Regions from separate parts of the Homo sapiens genome. Here region 1 is reported to be linked to region 2. The links are microRNA targets in miRTarBase. Many come from high-throughput screens and were not tested one by one. Region 2 holds a microRNA gene; the other region holds the end of a gene's coding sequence.

Region 1 (3,529 bases), not on the chromosome of region 2:
AGCTCTAAATTGCTCTAGGAGATAGAGCAAGCCTTGAAGTTTAGACTACCATGTTAAAAAACTAAGCTGATAGGTTTTAGCATCAGGCCAAATTAAAAACAGTACAAAGAGACTCATGTTATGTTTTATTAGCAATGAATTGTCACAATATTCCTAATTAGTGAAGGCTGAGGCAAAGCATACTGCCACTATAATACCATAGAGAGGTGGTAATAATGTGATGCTGTTTACACATGCAGTTCACATTATTGTACTTCATTGAAAAAAATGTGTACAATCTTTTGATTATTAGGGAATTTGTATGTAGTATGTGAAAGAGATGGTACTATCACAACAGAAATTGCAAGAGTAAAATCTTTACTTTGAAATTTTTTTCTTACAGAGAGATTTAGAGACTCATAGTTGCATGGAGTGTGGTTATAAGATCTTAGTTCTAGGTCCTAGCCAGTCCTTGGCAAATTCCAAGGCTTACTGAGTCTGTTTCCTCATCTGTAGAATGAATATAATAATAATTATAATGACAGTAATACTAAAATTATCATCACCATCGTTATTATATGGGTTATATATATAATTTATTATTATTATGATTGTCGATAGGATCAAATGAAAAAACAGATGTAAAAGGACTTTGTAAATCATCAAGTGCTACAAATGTTAGTATTAGCATTTTGCCTTTCCTGTAAATTACTTATTTTTACAAGAAGAAGTGAATTCTCATGTTACTATAGGATTTAGAGTTGATGATGTGTAAAGCAAACTCAAAGCAACATTTCTCAGCAGTGTGGAATACTTCTAAAGTTGCATTATTGTTGAATACATAGAGAACCTATCTTCAGTAGGCAAGGCTATTCCTTCATACAGAAAAAATATATAAAGACCATCTGACACACTGTTGATGGACACTTTTAAGTGTAAGAAATTAATTAAGATAATATTTGGCTGTAATACTTTGCATTTGAAATTTTGTAGACAATTCATTTTCAAGAGGATGTGATATTTTTGGGAGATTACCTATACTGAACAATAGTGGATGTTAGAATTATTTTGCAAATTTAACTTTATAATATCATATTCTATAAAAGTTCTGCATATTAATTATAGGAATTGGTTTTTCTAATTTGATCATTTAAGCGTAGAAAGATTTGTTTGGAAATTGTGAAATGTCTTTATACTATATTTTGTGTATTCTAAAAGACAAAATAACTCAAGAAAAGTTCATCTGCTTTCAACATTAAACCGAAAATTCAAATTTACTTGTGATTTATTTTAAGTGAGATCAGGAATGGACTACTTTGTGACAAAAATTGTTTCTCTTTACTTACCTGCACCTCCCAGATGACTTTAAAGATAATGTTTCTTCACATAGGGAGCTGTTACACGTTTCAAATAGAGCCCAGAGACAAGACTCCATGCATGACCAAATCATTACATATTTCTCTATTATAGAGTCATTGGTCTATGAGAGGATATAATTCTCTTTAGGACTATAGAGCAAATTAAATCAGTTTATTTTTAACCCCTGTTGTCCCTTATTTTCTAATTCTCATAGTTAAAAAAGTTACTTTAATGGATACAGATTTAATAAGGAAGAAATAGAGTTTGTTAGCATTATGATTCTTTTGTGATCTATGACAAAGTAGCTTACATTTTCCTGTGGAGTAAAAAAAAATTGAAATGGATAATCTGCTATGGTATATGAAAGAATGGTACAATAAATTGTCCTGAATGTACTTATCCTGTAAATAGGCAATGGTAGATAATTTAGCTCAATCTTAAAGATGAATTAAAAACGTATAGACTTAGAAAAAATTTTACTTCCCTACAAAATTTTTGCTAATTAAATCTCTACTTGTCTATTTCATCCTGTTCCAGGCACAGTCATTTCCTCTTGGTCTTTCGTCTGTCTAATCTAAAAATATGAAAGTATTTTGCCTATAACTAATTACATAAAAATCTCAGTTCTATTCATAACTTCATATGACTGCTATGCTGTAACTATCTTATTTCTGGAATAAAATAAAAAGCAGGTAACCTTAACCAAATGGCAAGTTTACTTTTTTCTAAATTCTTATATTTCTACATTACAATTGTATTGAATATTATATATTAGATCCTCCTCCTCCACAATAAAAATCAAATGGCAATTAAAAAAAGATAAACAATAAGAATACTTAATAGGTTTGATGGTCTCTTTTAAGACAGAGGCATGCTAATTTTCAAGCAAAAATGACAGAGACTTATAGCTTAAGTAGAATTCAGATAATTATTCAGACCCAATATTAAAAAATACTGACAATGTGAATTTATAAGTACACATTAACAGTCTCCTCTTTTTATTGAAAACAGTTTGCATTATTTGTAGTGAAACAAAAATCATGCCTTGATGAATGTAATTTTAATATATCCATCTCTTATTAAACAAATTATACATTTAATTCTTGGCACCTATATTTAATATCTTTTATACTAACAAAGATTACATACACGCATTGAAGGAAGACTACACACTCATGTCTAAGCCTCTCTCATCAGTTAAGAAATATACCCTATATTGAAAAATGCATGTATTTGAAGTTTTGACCTAACACAGTGGATTAAAGCTTAGACAATATTTACTTTGCCGCACTTTGATTCAGAAAGGGCCATATGTGAAGATATGATCCTAACCAACTTTAACATGTTTCTATAATGATCTCTCAGTAAAAAGATTTATATTAAAGATATTGAGATATAAAATAGTTACAAAATAAGCTGTAACCTTATAGCTACCCATTGGTAAAAGTCTATAGTTAATATATTTGGATAAATAACTCAAGTCAGCAGCAAAGTGGTTAAACATTTGTGATTTGATTTTATCTCAGCTTGGAATGTGGTTGGAGTGTCCCACTTCTAACAACTGTTTGCTAAGTTAAGGCTTTGGTGTTTACACAGTGTTGAATGAAGCAGCCTGGTCACCAGATGTGATCGCTTCCCCAGACTGTCGTTTTTTTTCAATCAGATCACTGTCCTCATGGTCCCGGTTCCAACCTTCTTCCTCAGTACATCCACCAGCCTTTCCAACCTAAGTTGGGGTTGGGATGGGGGTGAGAAGGGGAAAAAAAGGGCAATTATTGTTAAGAATGTCCTGGCTGATAAAGGACAGTATTTGCCTGTGACCAAGCAGTCCTCACGGTCATGTTAAGAAACAAAGCATTACTGTGAGAGACACTGCTACAGAGTGCCAAGTATTTGAGGTTAAAAAACCCAGCAACGACACAAACTTTAACCCAGATCCTTGAATTATGTCAGCATTAGATGCCACACAAAATTTATAGGACACTTATTTCAATACATTTAGCTACTTGCATTAAGGTTGTGAATGAATCATTTACTATGCAATGACAGGATCACATATTAAATGTAGAATAAACTGATTTTACCTAAGAAAAGCACATATTTCAAAACACAAATATCAGCAATGTTTCACCTGTTACTTAGATAAGTGATTCATTGGTTGGTATACTGTGTAACTTCTATGTACTAAATT
Region 2 (3,000 bases):
GGGATAATACCAAGACCTACTCAAAGGGTTGTTGTAAGGACTAAATGAATTAATATTTGGAGAATGTTTAGAATGGTACCTGGCACCTAATAAGCACAGAAGTTTTGGGCAAATACTTTTAATCATCCTTATTCCTGTGTGCGTCTGTGGGACCCCACGCGTGATCCATTCTCTGCACTCTCCCACCCACCCTTCCTGCTGCTCAGCTGGAAAGCCACCTCCCTCCCCTGCTCTGACAGACCTCACCATTTGGATAATCTCCTGGCTGCAGGATTGGACTTGACACGCTGTCGCGTCAAATCAGCTTCTGAGCCACTGCAGCCCTGACAGCACAGGGCTTTGGGGAAGGAAGGGAGAGAGGGAAGGGTGGAGAGCGCATGGCCCAGCTTCTGGGCTGAGGTCAGAGCAACCTGCTGGAGGTGAGGAGGATGGAGAAAGGGAAAGTTGCTGAGCAGAAGCATTCTTGGTGAGCTCTTCCCCAGCCTAGGGCTGTGGCTTGGACTGCTTCAGGAGCACCAGGAGCCCTGTGACAGCAGGAGGTCCTGCAGAATTCAGAGTGCCCTGCAGAGTGCCACGGGGAAGGGAGATGGGGAGCTGGAGCAAGAGAGGTGCGGGTGTGAGGAGCCCAGAGCCAAAGAGTTCATGAAAGCAGGGCTCTCACACTCGGACGTGCATGAGATAGCCTGGGATCTGGTTTTGCTCTTTTTTACTCTCTGGGATGCTCAGAACAGATTGTAATTTGGTAGGCCTGGGGTAGGATCTGGGGCCTGCATTTTTAATAAATTCCCTTGTTGGTTCTGATGCCTGCCAGAATTTGAGAACTGCTAGATCAGGACTTTAGAGAACTCACCTTTCCCCTCCGAGATAGAGGGCTTCAGGGGCTCAGCCTGGTGTGAATCGAGTGCCCCACAGTCACTCGCCCAGGGCCGATCCCATTTGCCCAAAACCCCTTTCCCAGTGTCTTTTTTTTTTCTTCTTTTTTGAGACGGAGTCTTGCACTGTCGCCCAGGCTGGAGTGCAGTGGCATGATCTTGGCTCACCGCAACCCGTGCCTCCCAGGTTCAAGCGATTCTCCTGCCTCAGCCTCCCAAGTAGCTGGGATTACAGGCGCCCACCACCGCACCCAGCTAATTTTTTGTATTTTTAGTAGAGATAGAGTTTCACCATATTGGCCAGTCTGGTCTTGAACTCCTAACCTCGTGATCCACCCGCCTCGGCCTCCCAAAGTGCTGGGATTACAGGCATGAGCCACCACGCCTGGCCTCCCAGTGTCTTTTATGACTTCACTTCCTCGCCCTCTTCTCACCTCTGCCGACTGAACATGCAGGTCTGGGCCCACTATGAGGAGCAGCCCGTGGAGGAGGTGATGCCAGTGCTGGAGGAGAAGGAGCGATCTGCTAGCTACAAGCCCGTGTTTGTGACTGAGATCACTGATGACCTGCACTTCTACGTGCAGGATGTGGAGACCGGTGAGTGCTCAGGCCGCTGGCTCGTGGTTCCTGGCTTGGTCCAGCTGGCGCTGCCTGGGGGTAGGGGGCCTCTGCCCAGTGGGTGGGAGGAACAATGCCTAGGCAGTCCAGGAGCCTCCCCTGAAGAGCTCACGTTGCCGCCCCTGTCTCCCTGCCTTGTCCCACTGCTCCTCTGGGCTTGGAGTTACTTCAGGAGCCTTCACATGAGCCCTGGCTTGGGCTCAGGCATGGAGGTGCTGCCGGACAGGTCCTCTGGACGCAGGTGAGATAACCAGGTTTATCTGGGTGGAGCTCTGAGTCTCTTAGGTGATTGTTTGTTCCTACATACCCCTGGCTATGCTGGGCAGGATGATTTGTAGCCCCCAGAATCTGTCAGGCACCAGCCAGGCATTGCTCAGCCCGTTTCCCTCTGGGGGAGCAAGGAGTGGTGCTGGGTTTGTCTCTGCTGGGGTTTCTCCTTCTCTAGAGGTTAACATAGCCCTGAGTGATAGCCAGTTTCCATGGAAACAGGCAGCGCTCTAGGGGAAGACATCCCCGGGCAGTCTCTGAAGGACCTTCTCCTCCTTCCGTCCTGAGTGGTGTGCACTGTGGCCAGGGTCCCCTGGGCAGAGACCTGGGGTTTCTGGAGGCCAAAGGGCAGGAGAGAGCTCTGGCAGCCGCTAGCCCGACTACACCTCCAACCGCTTACGCTTTCCACCCTGACCTCCCTTTTCTCATGGCCACCCTGTGCAGGGAAACAGTTGAGTTTGGAGCGGAAGGAAAAGCTCTTAGAGCTGCTTCTGGATCCCAGGAAACAAATCATGGTAGGCACAGGTGGACAGAGGGGGCTAGAAGTGTCAGCAGCACTTGGGCAGTCCCCCAGATGGCAGGACACAGCTCTGCCCAGCCTCCTCAGCCCACCCCAGGTCCGCTCCAGCCCCGTCTCAGCCACTTCCCTCTAATGCTGTTTCCCAGGCAGCTGCCTTTGTGGCAGTGTCATTTCACCAGGAAAAACTTGACCATTCCTGGCCCTGGGCTGGCTGTGCTTGAAAAAGGAAAAACGCAAGGGGGAGGGGTAGAGATGGAGCCCACGAGCCTGCGGGATTAGGTTCTCTTGAGGTCAGCCACAGTCCTGCTGAAAGCTGCTCCAGCAGTTGCCTGAATGAACCGGGGCGGTGGCCAGCCTTTAGGGCTGGGTCATGTGACAGGGAAGGAGTCTTGTAGTGGTGGTCTCAGTGGGAACAAGAGCCGTTCCTGGGCAGAGGAACCAGCTGGAATCCACCACCCCAAAATCCCCGCCAGCCCACCAGAGAACTTGAGCAAAAGGATGCGATCACTCCCAGGCAGGCTCTACTCAGCCTCTGGGTCCTGCTGGGGAGGACCCGCCTTGACTCAGAACAAGCCCCTGAAGTCTTAGAGAGCAGAAATCTGAGGCAGAAAACAAGAGAAAAGAGAAAACCATGTGTCCTTAGAATGCTGGAAGAGAAGGGAGTGAGGCCCTTCCTGGCAGGCCACCTGGGGATTTGTGGTGGGCTCCAGAGAGGAAGGCCCC

What was found. The annotated mature microRNA hsa-miR-593-5p reads AGGCACCAGCCAGGCAUUGCUCAGC and lies in region 2 at 1,844-1,868, shown strand. An mRNA with a match to its seed (bases 2 to 7 or 8) in the 3' UTR can be bound and repressed. Matches are read on the target gene's strand: a 7mer-m8 pairs with bases 2 to 8, a 7mer-A1 pairs with bases 2 to 7 and ends in A, and an 8mer does both.
Region 1: miRTarBase lists MIPOL1 as a target of hsa-miR-593-5p. Seed matches in the 3' UTR shown: 7mer-A1 at 2,443-2,449.

Annotation. Positions count from the first base shown.
Region 1 is chr14:37,546,440-37,549,968 of GRCh38, reverse strand. MIPOL1 (mirror-image polydactyly 1) reads right to left here. Exons shown (of 13, transcript NM_001388067.1): 13 at 1-3,064. The coding sequence ends at 2,998. Among named protein-coding and RNA genes, the nearest start is that of FOXA1, 47 kb to the left of the region's middle. RefSeq lists a silencer at 2,831-3,125.
Region 2 is chr7:128,080,033-128,083,032 of GRCh38, forward strand. It overlaps MIR593 (microRNA 593), which reads left to right and starts at 1,829; the gene lies at 1,829-1,928. It overlaps SND1 (staphylococcal nuclease and tudor domain containing 1), which reads left to right. Exons shown (of 24, transcript NM_014390.4): 18 at 1,328-1,469.